2 separate regions of the Homo sapiens genome follow, and region 1 is linked to region 2. Evidence: fine-mapped expression QTL. A gene starts in region 2. The other region holds a variant in brackets. All regions are shown on one strand. Distances are from middle to middle.

The links. PIP is the estimated chance that this variant, and not a neighbour inherited with it, causes the effect.
Region 1: its variant is the best candidate, but not a certain one, in a credible set for the expression of BCL2L13 in whole blood (INTERVAL, PIP 0.72).

Annotation. Positions count from the first base shown.
Region 1 is chr22:17,718,898-17,724,276 of GRCh38, forward strand. The region is part of intron 6 of BCL2L13 (BCL2 like 13); the gene reads left to right. Among named protein-coding and RNA genes, the nearest start is that of MIR3198-1, 43 kb to the right of the region's middle. The variant A/T (reference allele first, on the strand shown) is at 2,283.
Region 2 is chr22:17,635,909-17,641,287 of GRCh38, forward strand. It overlaps BCL2L13 (BCL2 like 13), which reads left to right and starts at 2,849. Exons shown (of 7, transcript NM_015367.4): 1 at 2,849-2,978. RefSeq lists enhancers at 1,114-1,986, 1,987-2,858, 2,411-2,460, 2,511-2,690, 2,811-3,090 and 1 more.

The sequences.
Region 1 (5,379 bases), 83 kb after region 2:
CCTGTAATCCCAGCACTTTGGGAGGCTGAGGTGGGTGGATTACTTGAGATCAGGAGTTCAAGACTAGCCTGGGCAACATGGTGAAACCCCGTATCTACAAAAATACAACAGCCAGGCACAGTGGTGCATGCCTGTAATCCCAGCTACTTGGGAGGCTGAGGCAGAAGAATTGCCTGAACCCAGGAGGCCAAGGTTGCAGTGAGGCGAGATGGCACCACTACACTCCAGCCTGGGAGACAAAGCAAGGCTCTGTCTCAAAAAAAAAAAAAAAAAAAAAAAAGAATAAAAAATTCTCACAATCCAACATAAAAACACAACTCTATTTAAAAATGGGCAAAAGATTTGAATTACACGTCATTCTAAAGAAAATGTACAAATGGCCAATTAGCACATGAAAAGATGTTCAACATCATTATTTTCAGAAATGTTTTGGAATTCCAAAAATATTTGGAAATATTTTTCTAAATTTTTTGGAGAATAATTTGACGTAAAATTACCATATGATCTGGCAGTTTTACTCCTGCTGTATTCAAAATAATAAAAACATTCAAACAAAAACTAGTACATGGACATTTATAACAACACTATTCTAAAGAGTAGAATCAACCCAAATGTTCACCAGCTAATTAATAAGTAAAATGTCGTGCCTACCTACAATGAAATATTATTCTCAGCCATAAAGAAGAATGAAGTACGGCCGAGGCAGGTGGATCATGAGGTCAAGAGATCGAGACCATCCTGGCCAACTTGGTGAAACCCCATCTCTACTAAAAATACAAAAATTAGCTGGGCGTGGTGGTGGGCGCCTGTAATCCCAGCTACTCAGGAGGCTGAGGCAGGATAATCGCTGGAATCCGGGAGGCGGAGGTTGCAGTGAGCCGAGATCACGCCACTGCACTCCAGCCTGGCGAAAGAGTGAGACTCCATCTCAAAAAAAAAAAAAAAAAAAAAAAGAATGAAGTATGGATACATGCTACAACATGGGTGGGCCTTGAAAACATTATGCTAAGTGGAAGCAGCCAGATACAGAAGGCTATATTGCATGACTCCATTTCTACTTCTCAGAATAGGCAATCCGTAGAGATAGAACGTAGATTAGTGATTGCCAGGGGATGAAAAGGGGGAGAATGGAGAGTGACTACCAAAGGGTGTCTTTTTGGGATGATGGAAATTTTCTGGCAATTGTAATGTGGTTGCACAACACTATGAATATACTAAAAACCACTGAATGGTACACCTAGAAATGGTGGGTTTCATTTTCTTTCTTTCTTTCTTTCTTTCTTTCGTTAGAGACAGGGTCTCGTTCTGTCATTCAGGCTGCAGTGCAGTGGCACGATCATGGCTCACTGTAGCCTTGACCTCCCAGGCTCAAGTGATTCTCCCACCTCAGCCTCCTGAGTAGCTGAGTAGCTGGGACTACAGGTGTACATCACCAAGACCAGCTAATTTTTTAAATTTTTTAATTTTTCTTTTTTTGAGATGGAGTTTCACTCTTGTTGTCCAGGCCGGAGTGCACTGGCGCGATCTCGGCTCACCACAACCTCCACCTCCCAGGTTCAAGTGATTCTCCTGCCTCAGCCTTCCAAGTAGCTGGGATTACAGGCATGTGCCACCATGCCTGGCTAATTTTTTTGTATTTTTACATGTAGTAGAGATGGGGTTTCTCCATGTTGATCAGGCTGGTCTCGAACTCCTGACCTCAGGCGATCAGCCTGCCTCCGCCTCCCAAAGTGCTGGGATTACAGGCGTGAGCCACCGTGCCCGGCCTTAATTTTTTTTTTTTTTTTAGAGGCGGGATCTCACTGTGTTGCCCAGGTTGGTTTCAAATTCCTGGGCTGAAGTGATCCTCTCTCCTTTGCCTTCCAAAATGTTGGGATTATAGGTGTGAGCCACTGTGCCTGGCTATGAATTTTTATGTTATGTGAATTTTATGAATATGAATCTCAATACTAAAAGAATAAAAAGTTTTTAAAAATTGATAATAACAGGCCGGGCGCGGTGGCTCACGCCTGTATTCCCAGAACTTTAGGAGGCCGAGGCGGGTGGATCACGAGGTCAGGAGATCGAGACCATCCTGGCTAACATAGTAGAAACCCTGTCTCTACTAAAAATACAAAAAATTAGCCAGGCATGGTGGCGGGCGCCTGTAGTCCCAGCTACTCGGGGGGAGGCTGAGGCAGGAGAATGGCATGAACCCGGGAGGTGGAGCTTACAGTGAGCCGAGATCGTGCCACTGTACTCCAGCCTGGGGGACAGGGCGAGACTCCGTCTCAAAAAAAAAA[A/T]ATATATATATATTTCCACGTGCCCCACGCCGCATTTCAGATGTGCGAAATTCAGACATTCAGGAGCCTCTTCACCTGATTCAAATTGTTCCACAGTTCCTGTGGGGATTGTTGAGTATCTACTAATCTCATGTTCCCAGGAAGTAGCAGAGCCCTGTTCATATTTACATTCTTTTAGTTTTTAAATTTTTGTTATTTTTTAATTTAAAAAATTTTGTTATGCTGCAAAAAGCTTTATTCCATTTAGTCCAGGGCTTGGGAGAGGGCTTCAGCGTGGTTAAAAAAATACATTCTTTTAAATAAATGGAAATAGTTTTTTTTTTTAAGTCATGACACTTATAAGAAATTTTTTTTTTTTTTTTTTGAGACGTAAGTCTTAATGCCACCCAGGCTGGAGTGCAGTGGTGCGATCTCAGCTTACTGCAACCTCTGCTCCCTGGGTTCAAGCAATTCTCCTGCCTCAGCCTCCCAAGGAGCTGGGATTACAGGCATGTGCCACCACGCCTGGCTAATTTTTGTATTTTTTAGTAGAGGCAGGGTTTTGCCATGTTGGCCAGGCTGGTTTCAAACTCCTGACCTCAGGTGATCCACCCACCTTAGCCTCCCAAAGTGCTGGGATTACAGGCGTGAGCCACCACACCCGGCTAATTTTTTATGTTTTTAGTAGAGACGGGGTTTCACCGTGTTAGCCAGGATGGTCTCGATCTCCTGACCTCGTGATCTGCCCTGCTCGGCCTCCCAAAGTGCTGGGATTACAGGCATGAGCCACCGCGCCCGGCCAAGAAATTTTTATGATGCACACTTTTCTTGTTACCTTGCCCCTTAGAAATAACTCATAATGGTTTGGTGTACGTTTTTCTAAACATGTGTTTTGCTTATATAAACATTTTATTATGTATAAATATATGCAAATAAGTAGATATGTATATATGTGCATTTAGTAAATAGGATCATACCATCCATTTTCCCACAGAGTTATCTTTGCCACAAATCATGTGACCTTATATATCTAGTTCTGGATTCTATTTTATTTAATTGGTCTAATTGCCTCTGTTTTTTTTGGAATTGAGACAAGATCTTGCTCTGTCATCCAGGCTGGACTACAGTGGCACGATCATAGCTCAGTGCAGACTCAAACTCCTGGGCTCAAGGGATCATCCCATTTCAGCCTCCTGAGTTGAGTAGATGAGACTACAGGGGTGTGTGTGTGTGTGTGTGTGTGTGTGTGTGTGTGTGTGTGTATGTAGAGATGATGTCTTACTATGTTGCTCAAGCTTGTCTTGAACTCCTGGCCTCAAATGATCCTCCTGCCTCAGCTTCCCAAAGTGCTGGGATTACAGGTATGAACCACTGTGCCCAGCCAGGTCTAATTGCCTATTTTTAAGCTCTTACCATGCTTATACAATCAGTGTGCCTTTGTAATGGGTTGAGTAGATACCTGGTAGTGTCAGCTCTCAAACTGTTGTTTTTCAAGATCAGCTTAAATTCCTTGGCCTTTTTAAATTGCTATATAGATTTTAGAATTAATTAGTTGTCAATTTCCATAAGAAAAAACCTGGTAGGATTTTATATTGGAGATTGTATTGAACCAAAGGGTTAATCTGGGAATAGCTGACATCTTTACAATAGTTTTCCAATCTATGAGCATGATATATATATCCCTTTAGGATATCTTTAATTTCTTTCAATAATACTTTGTAGTTTTTTATGTAGAGTTATTGTACAATATGGGCTTCCTTCCACATTGGACTTAAAAATGTACTTCTTTTTTAATAGTAGTTAAATAGTTTGGATGAACCATATATATTTTTAAACTTTCCTGAGGGTATTGAAGACTGTTTGAAATCCTTCTGTATTAAAAATGATGCTAATGAAAATCCTTGCAAAATGTGTAAGCTTGAGACCTGATTACAGCTTCCGGTTAGGATCTCCATGTCTTTGCTTACTTAGCTGAACCAAACCCTCCCTGTGTCTCTCTCTATCTGTCCCTCTCCCTCTCTCCCTCTCTCTTTCTCCCTCTCCTGAATGCATCCTCTTCTGGACCATTCCAGTGGTCCTTACCCTGAGGCTGGGGCAAGCTGTCATCCTCAAAAGCTGGGAGGCCTAGAAGCCCTCTCTTCCAAGCCAATGGGCCCTCCAATTTTCCTAATTGTATACTGCAGTACTGTAATTTTTAAAGACAGATTTTACTTTACAGTTTTGTGTTATCTCTGCTTAGAAGAGATGGAGGAGGAAGGAAAAGTTTGTAAATTACCTTCTTTAGCCAAGGGAGGGTATTGTTTCCATTTGTTTTCACTTCCTTATTGTCCCATCCAGTTGGTATTTTAGAATAGCTCTTTGTCCTACCACCATACCACCAAAAACAACAATTAAAATGACAACACAAACAATAGCAAGTTATGAAATAGCATAACTTACTGATTACTTCCTATGTACAAAGTACTAATCTAAGCACTATAAATACTATACCTCGGGCCGGGCGCGGTGTCTCACGCCTGTAATCCCAGCACTTTGGGAGGCCGAGGTAGGTGGATCACGAGGTCAAGAGATTGAGACCATCCTGGCCAACATGGTGAAACCCCGTCTCTACTAAAAATACAAGTATTAGCTGGGCATGGTGGCGTGCACCTGTAGTTCCAGCTACTCGGGAGGCTGAGGCAGGAGAATCACTTGAACCTGGGAGACGGAGGTTGCAGTGAGCCAAGATTGCACCACTGCACTCCAGCCTGATGACAGAGTGAGACTCCGTCTCAAAAAAAAAACAAAAAAAAACAAAAAACAAACTATACCTCATTTTAAAAATGAACTCAAGTCCAGGTGTGGTGGCTCACACCTATAATCTCAGCACTTTGGGACACTGAGGTGGGAGAATTGCTTGAAGCCAGGAGTTTGAGACCAGCCTGGGCAACATAGAGAGACCCGTCTCTACAAAAAATAAAAAAACTTAGCTGAGTGCAGTGGCCCATGCTGTTATTCCCAGCTACTCAGGAGGCTGAGGCTAGAGGATCCCTTGGGACCAGAAGGTTGAGGCTGCAGTGAGCTGTGATCCTGCCACTGCACTTCAGCCTGTGTGACAGAGCGAGACCCCAACTCTAAA
Region 2 (5,379 bases):
CTGTGTTGGCCAGGATGGTCTCCATCTCCTGACCTCGTGATCCGTCCCCCTTGGCCTCCCAAAGTGCTGGGATTATAGGCGTGAACCACCACGCCCGGCCTACAAAAACATCTTTTAAAAAGTAGCCATGTGTGGCCTGGGGCGGTGGCTCACGCCTGTAATCCCACCACTTTGGGAGTCTGAGGTGGGTGGATCACTTGGGGTCAGGAGTTCGAGAGCAGCCTGGCCAACACACTGAAACCCCGTCTCTACTAAAAATACAAAATGTAGCCAGGCATAGTGGTGCACACCTGTAGTCCCAGCTACTTTGGAGGCTGAGGCAGGAGAATCACTTGAGCCCAGGAGGCTGAGGTTGCAGTGAGCCAAGATCTGCCACTGCACTCCAGCCCAGGCAACAGAGGGAGACTCCGTCTCAAAAAAAAGAAAAAAAAAAAAAAAAGCTACATGTGGTGGCACAAGCCTGTGGTCCTTGATACTTGGGAGGCTGAGGTGGAACAATTGTGAGCCCAGGAGGTCCATGATGCAGTGAGGTATGATTGTACCACTGCACTCCAGGCTGGGTAACAGAAGCGACACCTTGTCTCTAAAAAAATAAATAAGACCAGGCATGGTGGCTCACGACTGTAATCCCAGCACTTTGGGAGGCCGAGAGGGGTGATCACCCAAGGCCAAGAGTTGGAGACCAGCCTGGCCAACATGGCGAAACCCTATCTCTACTAAGAATACAAAAAAAAAATATTAGCCAGGTGTGGTGGTGGGTGCCTGTAATCCCAGCTACTCAGGAGGCTGAAGCAGGAGAATCGCTTGAACCCAGGAGGTGAGGTTCAGTGAGCTGAGATCGCGCCATTGCACTACAGCCTGGGTGACAGAGCAAGACTCTGTCTCGAGAAAATAATAATAAAAAATAAATAAATAAATAAAGGAAAAGACTGAGAGCAATGTGAAAGAAATGAACTTAAGTATGTACCAAATTGGTAACATAAGTACCTCCCAAAATAAATTATTGCATGTTACATTTTTGAAAGTTTTTTTAGGTAAAGTGTACATACAGTGAACTGCACAGACCTTAAAAGTAAAATTAGGGCCGGGCGCGGTGGCGCACCCCTGTAATCCCAGCACTTTGGGAGGCTGAGGCAGGCGGATCTCTTGAGGTCAGGAGTAGGAGACTAGCCTGGCCAACATGGTGAGACCCCGTCTCTATTAAAAATTTTTAAAAAGCCAGGCACGGTGGCTCACGTCTGTAATCCCAGCACTTTGGGAGGCCAAGGCGAGTGGATCACCTGAAGTCAGGAGTTCAAGACCAGCCTAACCAACGTGGAGAAACTCTGCCTCTACTAAAAATACAAAAATTAGCTGGGCATGGTGGTGGGTGCCTGTAATCCCAGCTACTTGGGAGGCTGAGGCAGGAGAATCGCTTGAACCCGAAAGGCAGAGGTTGCAGTGAGCTGAGATCGCGCCCCTGCACTCCAGCCTGGGCGACAGAGTGAGACTCTGCCTCAAAAAAAAAAAAAAAAAGTCTTCATTTTTGGTTACCCATTTCACTGCAACCTTTGCCTCCCAGGCTCAAGCGATTCTCCTGCATCGGCCTCCCAAGTAGCTGGGATTACAGGCGCGTGACACCATACCTGGCTAATTTTTTGTGTTTTTAGTACAGATGGGGAGTTTCACCATGTTGGCCAGGCAGGTCTGAAACTCCTGACCTCAAGTGATCCGCCCACCTTGGCTTCTCAAAGTGCTGGGATTACAGGAGTGATCCACCACACCCGGCCTGTACTATTAGTTTTCCAAGGTCACTAAGCCTTTCCTTTGCAAAACTTTATGTCCCTATTAATGGCACCATCCTTTCCTCAGTCACTCGGGCTTAAAAAGCATCCTGTGGCACCAGCCCCACAATAGCAGTTCAACTCTTTTATCACTTCCTTTAGAATAGCCTTGTTGAGATATAGATCTCATAACATAGAATTCACCTATAGTGTACAATTCAGTAGTTTTCAGTATTTCAAAGAGTCGTGCCACCATCACCCCAAAAAGAAACTCTGTATCCACTGGCAGTCACTCCCCATCAGGATTTTATCACTTCTGATCTGGCTCAGTCTTCTAACTCCTTATTGTCAATGCCCTCCTTGTTCCAATTCAGTACACACACCACGGGCAATTTGATCTCCCTAAAACACACTGTATCCTCTCTCCTAGATACCTTCCGATACTCCTCCAAAGAACTCTCGGATTCAAGTAAACAAACATCCATTAATACAAGTTAAGTATGTTCCAGGCGCTGTGTGTTCCAGGTACTGTTAACAAAAGCGGGTTACTAGTTAAGACTTCCTTCATGCCCTGGCGCCTCTGCTCAGCCAGTTCCCTTCGCCTAGGAGGACCTCTCTACACCACCCCGCTATATTCCCTCCCCGGAATTCCTTCCCAACCTTCAAGGACCATCTGCCCCAACTAGTGGCGAACATCGAGGCTGTCGTGACTGTGTAGATACTTATTTGACCTGCTCCCTTGGCAAACACTTGAAACGCAATACATGTTTGTGGAACTGAACATAGCCTGTGCATGCAGCAAGGCTTCTTTCCCTGGAATCGCCTGCCCTTCCTCCAACACAGCGACCAGCCGGTCAGAATCCCAACCCCTCGACTCCGGAAATGATCTGAGAGACGGAACTTCCGAACGTCGCAATCAGATTTGGGCGGGCTAGGAGGGTTTGGGTCTTCAGGTCACATCTGGACGGAGAGACCTCCGGGGCCTCCGTTGGTCGGTCCTTCCGCTCCGGATACCGTTCCGGATGTCAGGTAGTTCAGGTCCCGCCCCGACGCCGGCCGTGACGAAGGCACGCCGGGGTGACCTCACCCTCCAACATGGCGGCGGCGGTAGATTAGGGCCGCGGGTCGGAGCACTCACCGCCGCTGGGGGACCCTGTCGGAAGCAACTGCCGCCGCCGCCTCTTTCATCTCTTCTGGGGCAGGGGCCAGGGCCAGGTGAGGGGAGTGGGGTTCCGGGAAGGCTGAGCTGGGTGAGGAGGTGGTTTTCACCTGGGTAGGAAAGTGCCCAGAGACCGTATCGAGCCACCGACTCCCCAGTGGTTCCGACGACGCGTGAGTTTGAGTGTGTGTGTCTACACCGGCGCTCCTTCGCCCGAAGGTGCTCGGAGCTTAGGGGTCCGCTTCACCGTGACCGGACCTGGCCGCGCGGCCCCGCCGCTGAGCAGGCTTCTTCCGGCGTGGGGTGCCGGAGGCGGAGGAGCTCGGCCCTGGCTCCACGCCGCTGTCCTTCCCCACAGACAGCTTCACGTGGAAAACCCGGGTCCATTTTTAGGGCTAAACTGGGGAACGGCGACTTCTTTTTGGTTGAGGGAAAGGTTTTCCTGCGATTCACTTAGAACACTGGAAGATTAGCTTTGCCAGTCTTAGTCGTTTCTTCTCAGAGATTGTTAGAAGTCTTGTTTCTTAACCTTAATTCACTGCTGTTCTGACACCTATTTTTTCAGAAAAAAACTGCCTTCTTGCCCTTGGAGGCAGTACAGTTCACACGGAGTCATTTTCCCCCTTTGATTTATCCTCCCAACATTCTGTAAAGATCCTATTTCTTGCCTTCATAACCGACTTTCTGAGTGGAGGCTCTAACCTAGCGTTGAAAATCGGACGGATCTGGCCAGTTGTTCACATGCTGTTGACTGCTGGCTTTGGTTAGCTCTTAGCCACTCCCTGCACAAGTGTTTGTTTATTCAAAATAGCTATCTCACTGTCTCTGTTTAGAAGTTTGAACTAAGCTGAGAGCCCTCCCTCCTTACTTTTATTTTTTTGTTGTTGTTGCGTAAAACAAAACAAAAACTTCTTTGGCGAAATTATAAGATTTCCTCTGGAGGTTTAGTATAAAGCAGAATGTTGCTCTCTGCCCTGACTAGTGTGACCTTGGATGAGTTGCCACACCCTTCAGATACCTTCTTTCTTTTTTTTTTTTTTTGAGACAGAGTTTCCCTCTTGTTGCCTAGGCTGGAGTGCAATGGCGCGATCTCAGCTTACCGCAACCTCCGCCTCCTGGGTTCAAGCCATTCTCCTGCCTCAGCCTCCCGAGTAGCTGGGATTACAGGCATGCGCCACCACGCGGGGCTAATTTTGTATTTTTAGTAGAGACGGGGTTTCATCATGTTGGTCAGGATGGTCTCGAACTCCCAATCTCTGGTCATCCCCCCGCCTCAGCCTCCCAAAGTGTTGGGATTACAGGCGTGAGCCACCGCGCACGGTGATACCTTTTTTTCAACCACCCCCGCGCCACCGCATGAAGTATTATTTTCATTTTTAACACCCTCTCTCCCCCAAGTGAAGTATTCTTCATTTGGTAATAGGCAGTTAAGGGTATTGAAAATCTTTTTACTAGGAATGGTCAGGTACTGTTCTGTATTTTTTTTCCAATGGCTCATTTTTTATGTGGAAGAGTATATTCAGTAGTTGGATTCACTTTTTATTTTATTTTTAGTTGTCTCCTACAGCAAGGACCAGTAGTTGAATTCAATTGAAAGATGCCTAAGGCTATATCTAACCAGTCTTGTAAAAAAACAGACTTGTGTTTACTAGCACATAATCTAATCAACATGTATTAAATATCACACACATTAAGCTTTTAGGACAAGTGGTTTGCAACAGTAATAATCATTAACAACATTTCATTTGGCTGTTTGCGATGGCTCACTGTAATCCCAGCACTTTGGGAGGCTCAGGCAGGAGCATTGCTTGAGCCCGGGAGTTCGAGACCAGCCTGGGCAACATAAGGAGACCTTGTCTTCACAAAAAATTAAAAAAAAAAAAAATTAGCCAGGCATAGGTCCCAGCTACTTGGAAGACTGAGGCGAGAGGGAGGACTGCTTGAGCCCGGGAGATCAAGGCTGCTGTGAGCTGTGATTGCTCCACTGTACTTCAGTCTGGATGACAGAGACCCTGACTCAAAAAATATATATATGTTTGTTTATTAATTTTTTATATATATATATATATTTTTTTTTTGAGGCGGAGTGTCGCTCTGTCGCCCAGGCTGGAGTGCAATGACACGATCTCGGCTCACTGCAAGCTCTGCCTCCTGAGTTCACACCATTCTCCTGCCTCAGCCTCCCGAGTAGCTGGGACTACAGGTGCCCGCCACCGCGACAGGCTAATTTTTTGTATTTTTAGTAGAGACGGGGTTTCACCGTGTTAGCCAGGATGGTCTCGATCTCCTGACCTCGCGATCTGCCCGCCTCGGCCTCCCAAAGTGCTGGGATTACAGGCATGAGCCACTGCGCCCGGCCTAAATAGATATGTATTTTATTGTGAAATACTTCAGGCATACAAAACACAAGTGTTAAACATTCACTTAGTTCCAGTCTGCATTTATCATTTTTTAGAC